2 separate regions of the Homo sapiens genome follow, and region 2 is linked to region 1. A link means that fine-mapping ties the variant in region 1 to the expression of a gene that starts in the linked region. Tissue or cell type: monocytes after Pam3CSK4. Region 1 holds a variant in brackets; the other region holds the start of a gene. All regions are shown on one strand. Distances are from middle to middle.

The links. PIP is the estimated chance that this variant, and not a neighbour inherited with it, causes the effect.
Region 2: PLEKHG6 starts here. The variant in region 1 is fine-mapped to the expression of PLEKHG6 in monocytes after Pam3CSK4 (Quach 2016, PIP 0.95). The same link has a PIP of 0.9 or more in monocytes.

Annotation. Positions count from the first base shown.
Region 1 is chr12:6,331,873-6,340,212 of GRCh38, reverse strand. TNFRSF1A (TNF receptor superfamily member 1A) reads left to right here. Exons shown (of 10, transcript NM_001065.4): 2 at 5,969-6,122; 3 at 6,348-6,476; 4 at 6,697-6,846; 5 at 7,066-7,144. Among named protein-coding and RNA genes, the nearest start is that of TNFRSF1A, 6.0 kb to the left of the region's middle. RefSeq lists enhancers at 2,893-2,942, 2,716-3,010, 3,003-3,092, 2,409-3,278, 5,021-5,891. The variant C/G (reference allele first, on the strand shown) is at 4,416.
Region 2 is chr12:6,306,655-6,314,654 of GRCh38, reverse strand. It overlaps PLEKHG6 (pleckstrin homology and RhoGEF domain containing G6), which reads right to left and starts at 3,973. Exons shown (of 16, transcript NM_001384598.1): 1 at 3,807-3,973; 2 at 2,291-2,496; 3 at 871-1,026. The coding sequence starts at 2,428. RefSeq lists enhancers at 1,508-1,817, 4,439-5,159 and a silencer at 4,027-4,076.

The DNA of each region.
Region 1 (8,340 bases):
GGTGCTGGGATTACAGCAGAGAACAAAATCCCTGCCCACAGCTTTGACAGTCCATCAGGGGAATAGGTTGTAGCAAATAGAAAGCACTCAATAAAGTTTTTATATTGCTGTGACTAGTAGTAATTACTGGGTGGCTACCTGTGTTGGGAAAACAGAGGGTAAAGGTAGCCTGAACAGGTAAAGGGAAGTGCCTGCGTCCTGGGGTGCTTCAGCCCAGGTGGGATTATGTCTCCTAAGGGACAGAAGCCTGGCCTGGAGCTGGAGGAAAGGGAAAACAAAGGGAATGCAACATCCTTCTGAATTTCTCACCATTCAGTGGGCAATGCAGAGCTCACAGTGTGTGTGTGTGTGTGTGTGTGTGTGTGTGTGTGAGAGAGAGAGAGAGAGAGAGAGAGAAGTGGGGTAGGGGAGTAGGGAAGAATGATACAGGAGAGACTGTGGCAAAGCAAACAGGATTTTGCTGCTCTCAAAGAGCTTACAGCCTAGTAACCAAGATGGCTTACAGTGAAAAATGATTTCAGAGCAATCCCGAGGAAAATATCCACAAATGCATTGTGATGTGGTGTCCTGGAGCACCAGTTGGGAGGAGGAGGAACTGGGGAAGGAGGTGAGCCTTAGTCCACTGCCTTTCCTTGCTTAGCAGGTCTCAGCTCCTGCGCTCAGCTCCAGAAAATTCAGGAGCTTCCCCACGCTGCTTCAGTGTCCTTCACTGTGCAACTGCAGCACTCCCTGTATAGATCTCAGTGCCTACAACTGACTGTCTTTGACTCAAGTGAGAGCTCTTGAGAGCACGAGCTGTGTATTATCCACCTCAGCATCCCTAGCACCCATACGGGACCTGTCACATTAACTGTGCCCCTTAACTATTTGCTGAAGGAATTAAGGAACAAGAGATGTGTCAGATGGGATGGCGGAGGGAAAGCCTCATAGAAAAGTGGATGTGGAGCTGACATCTGAAGTCACTGCCTGTCAGGGTAGCTATAAAGGAGGGAAGCAGAGTTGGATACTGATGTGAGGAAGAGGAGAGGAATGGAGAGATGGGATTTTGTGTTGATGGGCAGGGTGGCAGGAAGCCAGACACCTTGGTTCGGGAGTGGAAAAACCATGTTGAGAAACACTAAGAAATGTGAATGGGAGAATTAGAGGGAGTGGGGGAGAGGATGGAGGAAGAGTGTTGAATATGGTTCCAGGTGGAGGAATTCATTCATTCGTTTATTCAGAAGCTGTTCTCCTAGGGCACATTCTGTGCCCAGACTGTGATTAGAAGTGAGGTGAGGCATCTCAGATGGGTGCTGTGGTTCATGCCTGTAATTCCAGCACTTCAGGAGGCCGAGGTGTGTGGATTGCTTGAGTCCAGGAGTTCGAGACCAGCCTGGGCAACACAGCAAAACCCTGTCTCTACAAAAAATACAAAGATTAGCGGGGCATGGTGGGGCGTGCTTGTCATCCCAGCTATTCGGGAGACTGAGCTCGGGAGGACGGCTTGGGCCCAGGAGGTGGAGGTTGTAGTGAGCCCTGACCACACCACTACATTCCGTCCTGGTGGTGAAGGTTGCAGTGAGCTATGATTGTGCCACTGCACTTCACCCTGGGTGACAGAGTGAGACCCTGTTTCAAAAAAAAAAAAAAAAAAGTAGTGAGGCATCTGTGGAAGTCTTCAGATCATTTCCATGACCATGGAAATGCTGTTTGGAGCCAGGCCCTGGAGATGGAGAGGAAGGTTCACACACTTGTGCGTGCAAGTTAAAGCCTGAATGAAGATTTAAAAAGTGTGTAGGACGGATGGGAGCAGGAGAGAGGCTAGAAGACACTTGCAATAACCCAGGTGTGAGGCAACCCAGGAATGCGGAGAGGACCGAGAGATCACAGGGGGAGGCCTCGCAAGATGAACTGACACATGGGATGGCGGCAGGGATAGGGATGGGGCCCTGGGGAGAGAGCGTGGCAAGTTCTCAGCATTCGTCCGGGAAGTCGATGGTGTGTCATTTGTCTAGGTGAGGAGATGGATGAATTCCGTCTGGGGCATGTTAAGGGTCAGGGAAATGGTCATGTGGAAGGGTGCGCCTACCAAGCTGGAGGAGAGGTGCTGCAACTTCTTTCTGCCTTTGTATCATTCAGACACACTGTGTTCACTCATCAGTGGTTCTCAAAAGGAGAGGAGCACACCAGACTCTTAAGTAAGGGTGTGTGTGCTTGTGTGTGGGGAGGTGGGGGGATGGTCTGAAAACTCTCCCCCGGAGATAAATATATTCCTACCAGGGGTGCTGTCTCCTCACCTCCCTCTTTGGGAATCACTGGCTTCTACTAGAGTGGAAGACAGATGTATCATTAGATCGATCAGTTGATCCATATTTATCTGCTCCCAGTCTGGAGGTCTGGTTCTGGGAGCTGAGAGGACACCAGGGGAGGATAAGACACTTTCTGACCAAGACATTTTTTGATCTCTCATCTTATAAGGTTCGTGGTCACTTTGGGGAGATCATATCTGTCACCCAACATAACCATATTATGATAAGAGCCAAAAGTAGATAGGGTCAGTTCACGTGCTTCGAGTTCACAGGGACTATGGGTCTAAGGAGCCGGGGTGGAGGAAACAGACATCGTCAATGGTGGCTTCACGGGAGGGAGATGGGATCTCAACTGGGCCCTTGGAGGAGAAGCTGCCACGACCTCCCCCAACACCTTGACATTAAATGAACAGACACATGAATGAGGGGGAAAGGAAGACTAATTGGGTCCCTGCAAGGTGGCTGGATCGGGGTCAGACCACAAGGCCGATCTCAGCGTCGCCTCCCCACTCTGCAGCCCCAGCACAGGAAGTCACACTTTAAAGCCTCCTCTGGCGGAAATTGTGGGGGAGTTGGAGGGGTGTTGGGCCACCCCCTCAACTGTCTCTCCACAGGCACCCCAGCTTCCTGCCCTTCTGCTCCAGGCTGGAGTCTGGGCCTAAAGAGCTCACCTCCTGTTTCTCCTGTTTTGCTTCATTTACGCAACTGCTGAGGACTGGGCTTACTGGGGCCAGCTGGTGCCAGCAGTGGTGCCCAGTGGTGGGGAGTCTGAGGGCCCTGGCTCCTAGGGATCAGAGAGGGCTGACCTGGAGCATTCTGGGGGCCAGGGGAAGCCTAGGAAGCAGGGCTGGTTCTTCCATCCGGCATCCCTTCTTGCCTGCTCCCTCGTTCCTGGAAGTGGGTGTTCAGGGCTCTGGAGGCTTTCCTGTATTGCCAGTGGGCTTGGGGAGGGTCTGTGGAGACTCAGAACTGGCCTTGTTTCCTAAGGATTGTCTGGGGACCCCAGGGAGGCCCCCAAACCCAGCACAACTGGTCAGAACCAGCCAGGCTGTGGGAATGCGGTGAACCCAGGGTGGGAGGGCAGCCTTGGCTTGCTTCCTGCTGGGACTGGGGAGTGTTGGGGGATGGAGTGAGAGCTCACGGAATGGGTTTAGCTGTTGGAGACTTGTTGAACTGGGAGGAGGAGCTGGGGCGGGGCCTCAGCTAAAGGCCGCTGAGGGGCTAGGAGGAGCCAAGTGGCCCTCAGGGAAGGGAGGGCACAGACCTGATGGGCGGAAGCCAGGGTCGAGGGAGACTTCCCTTCGGGATGGAATGGGGAGAGGGAGGCATTTCCCGGAACATGTGGGCCAAGTGGGACAAGGGTCTGTGGCCTGGCTCTTTGCATGGGGAGGGGATGGATGGGGGTTGAGTGGGGATGGGAAGGAGGGACTTGGCCATAGGAAGAAGGGATTAGATGGAGTCCCACTTGCATGCAGGCTGGTGCCTTCTGCCTTTCTGCTGACTCATGACCCTTGAGGAGCTGGGGAAGCTGCTAGTTCCCTCTCCCCTCCCTAGGTCTCCCTCCCTCTGGCCTGAGTCACTGGGGCGGAGTTGCTGGGAAAAGATTTCCCTTTCCCGGATCTGACTTAACCCCCAGAGTGCTGGAAAGAGAAGGGAACACGTGGCCTGAGAAAGCCTCTCTCCCTCCCTCCCTCCAGGGAGGCTCATCCCCCACTGGCCAGAGGTCCCTGAAAAGCTCCCTTTAAGGCTGTCTGGGGCTGGCGTCCCCCAGTTCTTCATCATGACTCTGCCTCAAGCCCCCTGGATGGGATTCAAAGTACCAGTGACCTTAGGTGCTCCAGTGGCTTCTTCGGGGAAAGGAACCACACTTTCAGGACTGGGAAGTTCTTCCCATCACCACCCCAAACCCTTCCTGTTGCCCTGGAAGCCCCAGTCCTGTTCTCAGCAGAGGTGGCACGGTGTTGGCTGGTGCGGGCAGGGGAAGGTTGTTGTCCTCTGAGCAGGGGCACACGCCTCCACCTGCGGGGGCTGCTGTTGTGTTTCTGTGTGTGGCTTCCCCTGTTTGCGGCTGAGGCTTGAACTTCCGGGCCTGCACAGCTTACAGCTGCAGCGTCTCCCCGTGGCTGA[C/G]TCAGGGTGACTGGCCTCCTGCTCCGAAATGTGGAGTTGGTGAGGCTGGGTGGCTGTGGGCTGCCTGACCCTCCTTCCCTGCCCTAGGGTTTCTGTGATCTGGTGAGTCAGTTGCTCCCCAGTGTTTAACAGACATTGAGGACACCCTCTTATCTTTACACAAAGTGTCTCTTATAGTAGAAAAAAAAAATGAAGCCCAGGGAAAACCAGAAATGAAGCTGGCAGAGATCAAAGTCCAAGTTAGAGCTAAATATTCACTCCTGGCTTTGCTTTCCTGGCACTGATGCCGGAACAGGACAAGCCATTTAGCTGCTGTGGGGTTGGCCTGAGACTGCAAAGCACACCTTCCAGAATGCCATGGTGTGCAGGGGGCTCCAGGACTCCCCAGCACGCCCTCAGCTCTGACCTGACAGTCATCCAAGCTGGGTCGCTAGCCTTGGCCAGCTCTATTTGCCTATGTCCTGCACACCTTTGCCCACTCCTGCCCCCGTCTCAACTTTGTCCCCCGTCTACCCATGCAGGATCCCCAACCTTTCCCTTTTACTCTCCTCCCCATTTGTCCTTGCCAACCCCGGGTGTTTGTAAATTTTGAGGTGGAGGGGATGGGCCAGGGAATGTGAGGGCGGAGGCAGATTGAGGTTTGATACAAACATGTAAATAAACTTCCTTCTTCTGTCCACTCCCCAGGAGTGGTGCTCACGGGAACATCACTCGCCCCCACCGCCAGCTGACTTTTTCAGAAAGCTTTTCATGGTGTAACATATTCCTGGGATGTGCATAGATCCTCATTGTTTACCTCTGTGAATGTTCGCAAAGCGATCACACGGTGAACCCAGCACCCAGATGGAGAAACACCGCCCCAATCTTTAGGGCTGCTTGTTGGAAGAAGGGGCCATCACTGAAGTAACCTGCCAATTCCCAATCAAAAACACATCCTTTCAACATCTGCCCTGTGTCCAGCACTGTTAGCTGCTGTGGGGGATTTCACAGTAAGGATAAAATACAGGGCTGGGCTCACGCCTGTAATCCTAGCACTTTGGGAAGCCAAGGTGGGAGGATCACTTGAGCCCAGGATTTTGAGACCAGTCTGAGCAACGTAACAAGACCCTGCCTCTACTAAAAATAAAAAAAAATTAGCTGGGCATGGTGGTTCACGGCCGTAGTCCCAGCTATTCAGGAGGCTAAGGTGGGAGGACTGCTTGAGCGTGGGTGGTGGAGGGTGCAGTGATTGCATCACTGCACTCCAGCCTGGACAACAGAGCAAGATCCTGCCTAAAAAAAAAAAAATACAGCTTAGATCTGGGGCCTACTAGCTTTGAGTTGAGGGAACAAAAATGAACACACAGGACAACTAGAGAACAATTAAGCATCAGATTGTATGGCCCCAACTGTCTAAGTTTCAAGGAAGAACTCTAAACTTAGTGAGTGGCGTGGCCTGGGCGGAATGTTTCACTGAGGAAGGACTTGAGCCAGGGAAGTTTTAGATCTGCTACCCCTAAGCTTCCCATCCCTCCCTCTCTTGATGGTGTCTCCTCTATCTGATTCTTCCCCAGGTGCTCCTGGAGCTGTTGGTGGGAATATACCCCTCAGGGGTTATTGGACTGGTCCCTCACCTAGGGGACAGGGAGAAGAGAGATAGTGTGTGTCCCCAAGGAAAATATATCCACCCTCAAAATAATTCGATTTGCTGTACCAAGTGCCACAAAGGTAGGGGCAAGTGGAAACGGTGAATGCCCTCAGGTCTGGGGTGCTGCTTCTTTCTCTGCTTCTTCCAGTTGTTCTTCCCTAACTTTGCTGTCTCTCCTGGGCTGGGATTTTCTCCCTCCCTCCTCTCCTAGAGACTTCAGGGAATCGGCCCTGGCTGTTGTCCCTAGCATGGGGCTCCTTCCTTGTGTTCTCACCCGCAGCCTAACTCTGCGGCCCCATTCACAGGAACCTACTTGTACAATGACTGTCCAGGCCCGGGGCAGGATACGGACTGCAGGGAGTGTGAGAGCGGCTCCTTCACCGCTTCAGAAAACCACCTCAGACACTGCCTCAGCTGCTCCAAATGCCGAAAGGGTGAGTGTGCACAGGCAGGAGAGTCAGGCGGGTCTTGAGTGGTGTGTGGGTGCCTGTCTATGTGCAGGCTGGTGGGTGTGGGCAGGAAGGTGTGTGTTTTGGTGGGACACTGCATGGATGTGAGTGTGTATTACAGAGACACACACTTAGGGGTATGTCAGGAAGGGGATGCAGGGACAGGAGGATGCAGGACTCATACCCCATCTTCTCCCCTCACCAGAAATGGGTCAGGTGGAGATCTCTTCTTGCACAGTGGACCGGGACACCGTGTGTGGCTGCAGGAAGAACCAGTACCGGCATTATTGGAGTGAAAACCTTTTCCAGTGCTTCAATTGCAGCCTCTGCCTCAATGGGACCGTGCACCTCTCCTGTGAGCGCAGCTCTCCTGAGGCCAAGCCCTCTCCCCACCCCAGGGGTTGGCCCCTTCCCCATGCGGTGGCACTTCCTTTCCTTCCCCCTCCTGTATTCTGTGGGTCTGACAACCAACTCCTCTCTGGCCGCCCCCACCCTGTCCCTCGTCACTTCCTCTGTCCTGTGGGGTGGGGGTGCAGGCGCTTCTCCTTTAGCTGTGCCGCACTTCTCCCTACAGGCCAGGAGAAACAGAACACCGTGTGCACCTGCCATGCAGGTTTCTTTCTAAGAGAAAACGAGTGTGTCTCCTGTAGTAAGTGAGTATCTCTGAGAGCTGCTGGGCACTGGATGGTGGCATGGGTTGGGACGGGTGACTGGTGGGAACCATTAGCTGGGCAACAGATGCCAGGATGCCCCAGAGTGCTCAGGGTCCTACTGGCTGAGTAGGAGACACTTCGTTAAGACACCAGGCAGTCCTTCCCCTTGCTCTTCAAATCTGAAGAAGTCTTTGAGGATGGAAGATCATGCCCCAAGGGCTGGCAGCCCTTCCAACTCAGATATGTAGATTCTTGGATCTACGATAGCTCATTGGTTCTAGGACATACACTCTTATAGCTCTGAAATCAAACCTCCTATAACTGGTGACTCATCATGGTTGAATTGGCAGCTCTGTTTGCGTCTGGGTAGTAATGTAAAGAAAAGTGCCTTTTATTCTTGATGGCGTCTTAGGTTTGATGCAATATGGTATTTCCTCATTAGTCACTGTCCAGGCCTCCTTACTCCTGGCTCCACAGAGGCTGTTCTTGTCACTCACTTGCAAAGAATAAACTCTGAGGGCTCTCAGAGTTTGAACCCCAGCATAGCCACTTACTGGCTATGTGACGTTGGGCAAGTTTCTTAACATCTCTGAGCCTGACTTTTCTTTTGGTGTTTTTTTTTTTTTTTTTTTTTTGAGACAGGGTTTCACTCTGTCACCCAGGCTGGAGTGCAGTGGTGCAACCGTGGCTCAGCCTCCACCTCCAGGGCTCAAGCCATCCTCTTGCCTTAGCCTCCTGAGTAGCTGGGATTAGAGGCACACACCACTACACCCAGCTAATGTTTTACTTTTTGTAGAGACAGGGTCCTACTATATTGCCCAGGCTGGCCTCGGACTCCTGGGCTCAAGCGATCTTCCGCCTCAGCCTCCCAAAGTGCTAGGATTACGGGCATGAGCCACCACGCCTGGCCTGGGCCTTAGATTTCTTATATTTAAAGTAAGCATAATGACATTCATTTGGTGAATTTGTGAGAACCAAAAACAAAGAAACAAACAAAACCTACAACACGTCTGACACAAAACTATTTATTTTCCATTAATCTTCTTTTTTTTTTTTTTTTTTTTTTTTGACACAGAGTCCTGCTCTGTCGCCCAGGCTGGAATGCAGTGGCGCGATCTCGGCTCACTGCAACCTCTGCCTCCCAGATTCAAGCAATTCTCCTGCTTCAGCCTCCCAAGTAGCTGGGATTACAGGCA
Region 2 (8,000 bases), 25 kb after region 1:
GACACTTCAGAGGGACCTTCAAGTGAATCAGAACAAGACTTAGAGAACCAGTGGTCTCAGGCACCACTTTGACATTTGCCTATAAAATGGCATTTTTTATGAAGCAGCATGGCTTACATTTTACAGGTTTCTTTTTTTTTTCCTTTTGAGACAGAGTTTTGCTCTTGTCACCCAGGCTGGAGTGCAGTGGCGCAATCTCGGCTCACTGCAACCTCCACCTACCGGGTTCAAGCGATTCTCCTGCTTCAGCCTCCTTAATAGCTGGGACTACAGGTGCCCGCCATGACACCCAGCTAATTTTTTTTTACATTTTTAGCAGAGACGGGGTTTCACCATGTTGGCCAGGCTGGTTTCGAACTCCTGACCTCAGGTGATCCGCCCGTCTTGGCCTCCCAAAGTGCTGGGATTACAGGTGTGAGCCACCACGCCCGGCCCATTTTACAGGTTTCTTTGGTACCAAGAATGTGAGCAATAGACACTCCTGACCCTCACTCACTCCATCTGGATGTGGCTTGGGAGGAGAGGTGAGGCTCACAGTGGCAGTGAAGGATGATGTGGCACTGAGGATAGAGAGAGCATACCTGACTCTCAGCAACTTGGTAATTTGACTTGGTAGTTTTCAAAAACTGAAAGCTCAATATCAATCGTTTATCCACATTTAATCAAAGTGTCTCAAGTCAAAGTCCCTGGTTGCCATGCATGGACCAAAGAGAGATATATCCCTGAGAGGTCCTAGGCAGAGCCATGTCTGACTGGCAGGCAGCAGCCTCCTGGACCTGTGTTCTCAGCTCCCGGAGCTTGCTGGTCATCTGCGGAGCCATCACAATTGGGGCCGTATGTGTGGGGATGGGAGGAGAGGGACCCCCTTACCTTGAGTTTGGGGGAGTGAAGCAGGCCAGCCCCCACATGGCCCCCGTGCCTCTTCTCGGGCTCTGGATCTCGCAGTCTCATGGGTGACAGGCCTCGGGCCTGGCCAGAACCCCTGGCAAAGGGGACATACTGCTGGAGGCGTCGGCGACTGGGATCCTGGGAGAGGAGCAGGGGAAGTTCTGGGGGTGCCTCCCTTTCCCCAGAAACCCCAGAGAGGTAGTAGGGGGGCAGGCTTGGCTCTAGATGTTGTTCCCCCACCCTGGTAAGTCGGGCTGGCTCACTTCTCCCTGCAAACCAGTTTGGTGTGGACTGCTCCTGCCCTGAGTCACAGCGGCCACTGCCGGCAAGGCTAAGCTGAGTGGGCAGAGGCAAGACAGCCTGGCTCCCTGAGTGGGCCTGGGGAAGAAGTGGGGCCTCCTGCCGAGCAGGTGCACAGCACACACATGCCTGGGCTCTGGTGTGTGTGCCCCCACTGCCTCCTGCTCTCCGTACCATGGGGGGTGCATGGACAAGGCGTGGTGCACACAGCATTCTGGTCTCTCGTAACTCTCCTTGTCTATGACCAGCCTCCCTCACACATGGGGACGAGGGCACTCACATGTGCAGCCTTCTCCCCAGGGGCGTGCAGCCTGCATCCCATCCAGCTGGGAGTGGCTGCCCTTCTGTGTGAAAGGCTGAAGCCACAGCCACACAGCTCCTCCCAGGGCAGGCCTGGTCACATTCCTTCATTTGCCTGTGGCCTGAATTACCCCACATACTTTCTAGTCTCCCTTCTCACCCACAGCCTAGGAAAGTCCCATCTCCAAAGGCAAAATTATCGTGCATTGAGGCAGGGGATGTCCCAGCCACAAGCAGAACTGTCCTCAAGGTGGAGGGGAAACCTGCAGGCTGAGGGACAGACCTGGCTTCCACACCCCTCTGCTTGGTTAGGACTGGAGGAGAGCCAGGCAGGTGGAGCCAGGGGTGGAGCCAAGGCAGGCACCCTCCTGTCCCTACCCACCACTGGAGGAGTAGGGACACCCTGAACCTTTGCTCATCTTCATCCTGACTCAGGGAGAGGCAGATCTCAGGAAGGCCTCAAACTCCTGCCAAGCAGAGGCGGGAGCCTGGGAGGCGCCAGCTCTGGGGTTTGATGACCTTACCCGCAGCTCTTTGTCTGAGACCTGTCTAACAGCACTCCTCGGAGGGCCTGGCTTCTCCTGGCTCCGCCTCTCCTGCCCAGCTGCTGGGACTGGGGTGTGATATCCCTGGAGCCTGGCCCTGTCACTGCCCTCCTCTTTCCCGCAACCCAGGAAAGAAGAGTAGGGTAAGGGGCAGGAATAGCTCAACCTCTGAACCTGTAAGGGGACAGAGACTCCACAGCCTAGGTGTCTTCCCTCCTGCCCCACCAGGTCACTTTTGGGGCACAGCCTGGACTCACCAGCACAGGGTATCCTCGGGGATAGAGTCTGCCAGCAGTGCTCTGAGCAGAGGCTCGATGCCGGCCCCCATAAGTCTCAATGCGGGAGGCCACGAGTCCTTGGAGGGGGCCCTCATGTGGAGGACCAAAGGCCTTCATCCCTTCTCTCCTGGGTCACCTCCAAAGGGCCATATCTTCAATGTCCAGGAGAAAGAGGTCCCCTAGGGCTGCAAGAGAGAAAAGAGGAATGGAAGGGCCATCCCCAATCAGTGAATGGCACCAGGCGGGAGACCAAGGCTGGTAGGGGGCCTGGGAGGGAGGGTATAGTGGGGGAGGAGAGGGCCAAGGGCTTGGTCACTTGTTGGGGGGAACATGGCTGCCTCATCTATGACTTGGTGGGAGTAGGGTAGGTCCAGGTACATATTGGGTAGGAAGCCCCTTGGAGATGTACCTCCTCTCTCACATGTGTGCATATTTGGGGTACAAGCTCCTGCACTGGTCTCAAATGGGAACAAGGGTCACAGACAGGTCTCGGGCTTTCTGGATACACCCAGGTGGGAGGGTTCTCCTTGCACCTAGATATAACCCCATCCCCTTCCCCATATAAAGCTTGGGAAAAAGCTGGAGGGAGGCCATGGTGGGTGGGGTGGGCTGGGAGTGGGGGTGGCTGGAGACAGCCCAGTCTGCCACCAGTTTTTGTACAGCCTGTAAGCCTTTACATATTTACATAGTTGAAACAACTGCTGCCCCCCCTGCAAAAAAGCCACCAATATTTTGGGACAAGTAAATATTACATGATATTCAAATTCAGTGTCCATAAACACAGTTTTGTTGGAATCCATCCTCTTCTGCTGGTCTCCTAATAACCTGTGACTGCTTCTTGCTAGTTGGGACAGACGGTGTAGGCCGCGAAGTCTCTAATCTTTACTGTCTGGCCTTTACTGAAAGGCTTGCCCATCTCCTACCTGAACCCTCCTGACCACAGACAGGGAGGTGAGTGGGGCCAGCTGTCCGGCCACTGCCCTTAGAGACCAGCCAAATAGAATTAGAGTTTCTCCAGTTTCGGGCTATATATTTGGTCCTCCCCAGACTCTGGGAATACCACCATGGAGCTGGGGGCCAGGCGTGGGGCTCCATCCCTCCCCCCTAAACCTGGAGGGAGGGCCCGCCCTCGAGTGGGCAGGGCCTGGAAGAGGAGAGGCCTCCTAAGGGGCGGTGGGCTCAAGAAGGCTGCGCAGGTGTTTGTGCCCCGACCGGGTGGGCCTGAGGTCCTGCCTCAGCCCTCCCTTACCTTCCTCCGATTCAGGAGCAGAGGAGGAAACGTTCGCTGTCCCTCCTGCCGCCTCCCAATAGTCCTCCCTCTGAGGGCGCTGTCTCCCTCGCACTGCTCCCTACCCAGGGTCCTGTCTCAGCCCAGCCCCCGGCTCCCCTCCTCCCGCCTTCGGGAGGCCAGGCCTTCCTTCCCCTTCGCCCCGGCTTCCAGGCCCCGGGTCCCGGCCGCCCCGCCCCCGGGCCGCGTAGCCCTCCCGCCGCTCACCTGTGCCCACAGGTGTCACCGCACCCGCTGCCCTGCGCCGCCCTCCCCGCCCGCGGGGCTCCCCGTCGCCGTCGGCTCCCCGGCGATGCCAGCCAGCCCCGATGCCCAGCCTGGGACTGGGATCGAGCGGCCCGCGGGAGCCGGGCAGCGCGGGTCCGGGCGAGGAGGGCGGGGACCGGGCTGGCCCCTCCCTACCGCCAGCACCGCTCGGGGCAGAGGGGCAGAGGGGCGGGGCCCTGGGGACCGAGCAGCCCCCGCCCTCACGCAGCCACCGCCTTCCCCGGAGAGGACAGCTCACGTGGCGGTGCCCTCCTTTCCCCTTTTCGGTCGCACCTGAACTCGACACCCGCCGGCCGAGCGGGAGGGCTGGGACCGCGCGCCCTCCACTCCGGGCCAGACCCCCGCGAGGCGCTGCAGTAATGAGGGCTGAGTAAGGGGCGGGGCGCCGCCGGGGGAGGCGGCGAGGGTGACAACCTGTGGCAGGCACCCCTCTCTCCTGCTGGTCGCGGCGAGTGGCCGGCCGTCCGGTCCTCCCCCTGCCTCGGCCTAGACCCCTAAGCAGGCAGGGAGCCCGCCTGCCAGCTGGAGGGGCAGGGGGCCCCGTCGCTGTGTGGAGTCCAAAGTGTGAGCCTTATCTCTCAGAGGACCGGCTGGCCTGCCTGGTGGAAGGTGATACTGGAAGGCTATCCTGGACTTTGCCTTTGCTCCAGGGATAGGCAGCTGAGGCCTGACCCGCACTTCTCCTATGACCTAAGACTCAGGTGGGGGCACCCTCCCAGTTCACCTGCAAATAAGCCCACTCCCGGCTACACCAGGGTCACCCAGCCCTTGCGGTGGCTGCTAAAATAGATGCTGTGGGGCCAGGCGCGATGGCTCACGCCTGTAATCCCAACACTTTGGGAGGCCGAGGCGGGCGGATCACAAGGTCGGGAGATGGAGACCAGCCTGGCCAATATGGTGAAACCCCGACTCTACTAAAAATACAAAAATTAGCTGGGCATGGTGACGGGCGCCTGTAGTCCCAGCTACTTGGGAGGCTGAGGCGGGAGAATCGCTTGAACCTGGGAGGTGGAGGTTGCAGTGAGCCAAGACAGCACTACTGCACTCCAGCCTGGGCAACAGAGTGAAACTCCATCTCAAAAAAAAAAAAAAAAAAAAAGAAAGAAAAAGAAAAAGATGCTGTGGAAGGACTGACACATGCTGGGCATTGCATGAAAGGACCATACTTTATTTTCTTTATTTTTAAAATTTATTTTTTAAAAAGAAAATAGAGACAATATCTTGCTGTGTGGCCCAGGATGGACTCCAACTCCTGGGTTCAAGCGATCCTCCTGCTTCGGTTTCCCCACCTTTTCACTTCTCCAAATCATGGCACCTCGTCTGACAGAAGCACTGGATATTTGAGATAGAAGTGTCCTGTGGATGTGTGGTCATTATAATCTCACAACCATGAAACCCAAGACCCTGTAGTTGGCAGGTGGCAGGTCTGAGGCTCCCAGCCCCTCACCCTGACTGTGGTCTATTTCCTGCCAATGAACTCAACAGTGATTGATACGGCTCCTTACTTCTTCAGAGCATCCTGAAGTTCAGGAAACACTTTCAGAAGCAGAATCTCCTTGAGTTGCCAGGGGAAAAGGCCTCTATTCCCTTTTCCCATCTAGGCTATGAAACGCATACATGATCAGAGTGTTCTAGTCCTCACTCGGACTCTGGTGACTCTATTTTGTTTGGAGGAGGAATCTATATCTTTGGGCAGTTTCTAATTTTGTATTCCCTGTGTCCATCCTCAAATCTGCCCTCTGGGATTCTCTTTCTCTGAGCTTGCTGTTGTGTGATTGCTCTGCTGGTTCAGAAGTGTCCTCTGTTCCTCCAGCTCCTTGAACCAGCCTGTCTCCTGCTCCTGGCCCAGCTGGTGGTGGGACTAGTTTTCGGGGGTGAAGTCAGGTGGGAAAGGAACTGCAGTGGCAAGAAACCAGAGTGTGCCTAGTTCCTAGCCCTTCCCTCTTCCCATTCACTGTGTGTGTGTGTGTGTGTGTGTGTGTGTGTGTGTGTGTGTGTGTGTGTGTGTGTGGTGAGAGCTAGACAGAGATAGAGAGATGTCCAGGGATGACAAGAGTAGCCATGAGGGAAAGAGTTAATAAGCCAGGAGAGGAGGTGGTGATTACGGACAGTATTAAATGACACCCCAGAGACAGCTGGTGCCAATGGCCCCTAGCTTCTCCTCCCAGTGTCTCCCAGAAGGAGTGGGAAGGAGGAATAAGAGGGAAGATGAAATTGAGAGAGCACCAAAGACAAGCCTGGGCTTACAGTGCTCTGGGGTGAGCTGGCTAGAGGGGCCCAGTGGCAGGTGGTGGTGGGTGGCGGGGTGGTTAACCCTTTCACTTCCCTCTAGGCGTTGAGGTCCAGTCTCCACCCACTACTGCCCCAGGGCCTGTCTTCAGCCTCCCTGGGAGGAGAGGTTCCCAGGGCAAGCTGGAGTCTAGAAGCCAGAGGTGTGGCCGGGCACAGGTGTGTGGCCTAGGAGGCAGGCCTCCATGTTCTGTTTCTTCTCTTCTGTCACTCTCACAGTCTCCACTTCCATGACTCCTCTGTGCTGCGGAGAGCACACTCCTATGGCAGGCTGAGGGGAGCATTCTCAGGGAGCTGAATGAAATGTAAAGAATTGGGAGGCTGGAGGCTTGGCCTCTGCCAAGTGAGGCTAGGGGCCATCTGGTCCTTGGACCAGAGTATGCCATCTGGATACTTCTCTTTATTCCTGGTTATCCTAGCCTTTCCTCACATGTCTAGCTTGAGTCATATGCCTCACTTTCTCCCAGGTAAGATGCTCCTCATTAGGCCCCTGGATTGACCCCATAACTGATGGTAAAGTGTGTGTCCACGGTCAGAGCTCTGAGGATCAAATGCTTCTGTCCAATAGCAGCCTGAGGATAACTGCCTGGGGTTGGCATAAGGGGCTCACCAGGCAGGAAGGTCAGGGAAACTCATTTGTGCCTCGACCTCTGCTGAGCCCATATCTCTCAGGGCAGAAGTGGGGACCATCTGGGCTAATGAGGGGCTGGCAGGCACTAGCAACAGGAGGCAGCTAATGGGAGCTGTGTCCTCCCTGCCCAGAGCGAGGCAGAAACTGAGGGTTCAAGCTAGGAGGCGCCAGGTCATGTGAGGCAGATGAATACCAGGAGGACAGGCCACAGGGCAAAGCCTCTGGTGCCTCAGGCCAGAACTGGTGCTTCCCGTTTCTTCTTTCGTCCCCTCCCCCTTCCTTCCACATTTACTGGCAATGTGTAAGACAGTAGGAATATAGAAAAGAATAAGAGGCCCTGACTTCTAGGGGCTTACAGACTAGTGGGGAGGCAGATGGGCGAAAAGAACATTGATATTTAAGTTAGACCAAGAACGACTAAGTCAGGAGCTGTGGGAACACTTTGGAGGGACCGGTTACTACATAGGGGAGCCAGGGATGGCTTCTAGAGGAGGCGAGCTTTGTGTTGGGACTCGAAGGATGAGTAGCAGTCAGCTGGGCTGAGAAGGAGGAAAGGACATTTCTGGAGGAGGGAAGAGCATGTTTAAAAAGAAACTGGGGAAGGGCAGACTTCCCTAAAGGCCTCCTGAGGGTCTACCCTGTTGGCTCCCTGGGAATATCCCAGCTTCCGAGCCGAGGGTCTCTGGGTGGTGGCTTAGGAGGACGAACCTTCTTTGTGGCCTTCCAGGACCTCCGCAGTTTGACCTCAGTTATACTTCCCTACTCAATCCCTAGATGTGTCCCCATTCCCTGGGTCGGCCTCGACTTTCCTGACTCCATGCCTTTGCTCAAGCTGTTCCCCTCAGCTGGGTGCCTTGTCCTCCGACTCCACTTACCTCCTTCGAGGTCTTTCCTAGGACTGCCTCCTTCACGAAGCCTTTCCTAATAATCCCGCAGCCAGGCTGATCACTTTCCTCCCTGCTTGCAGCTGCCTTGACCGCTATGTTTCTTTAAAAGGCACCACTCTTGTTCTCCCTACTAAGTTGATATTAGCATGTGCCACCTATGCCTGAGGGCAGAGACCAGCCTAACACAAGACTGGCATGGTGTTTGGGAATTGAACTGGATTGACTTGCTAGAGGACCCAGACAGAATGACTTGCAGATAGACTGGCCTGTACTGTTCTGTCCCTACCCAAAGGAACCACATTTGCTTTTTAGATACCTGGAATTCTT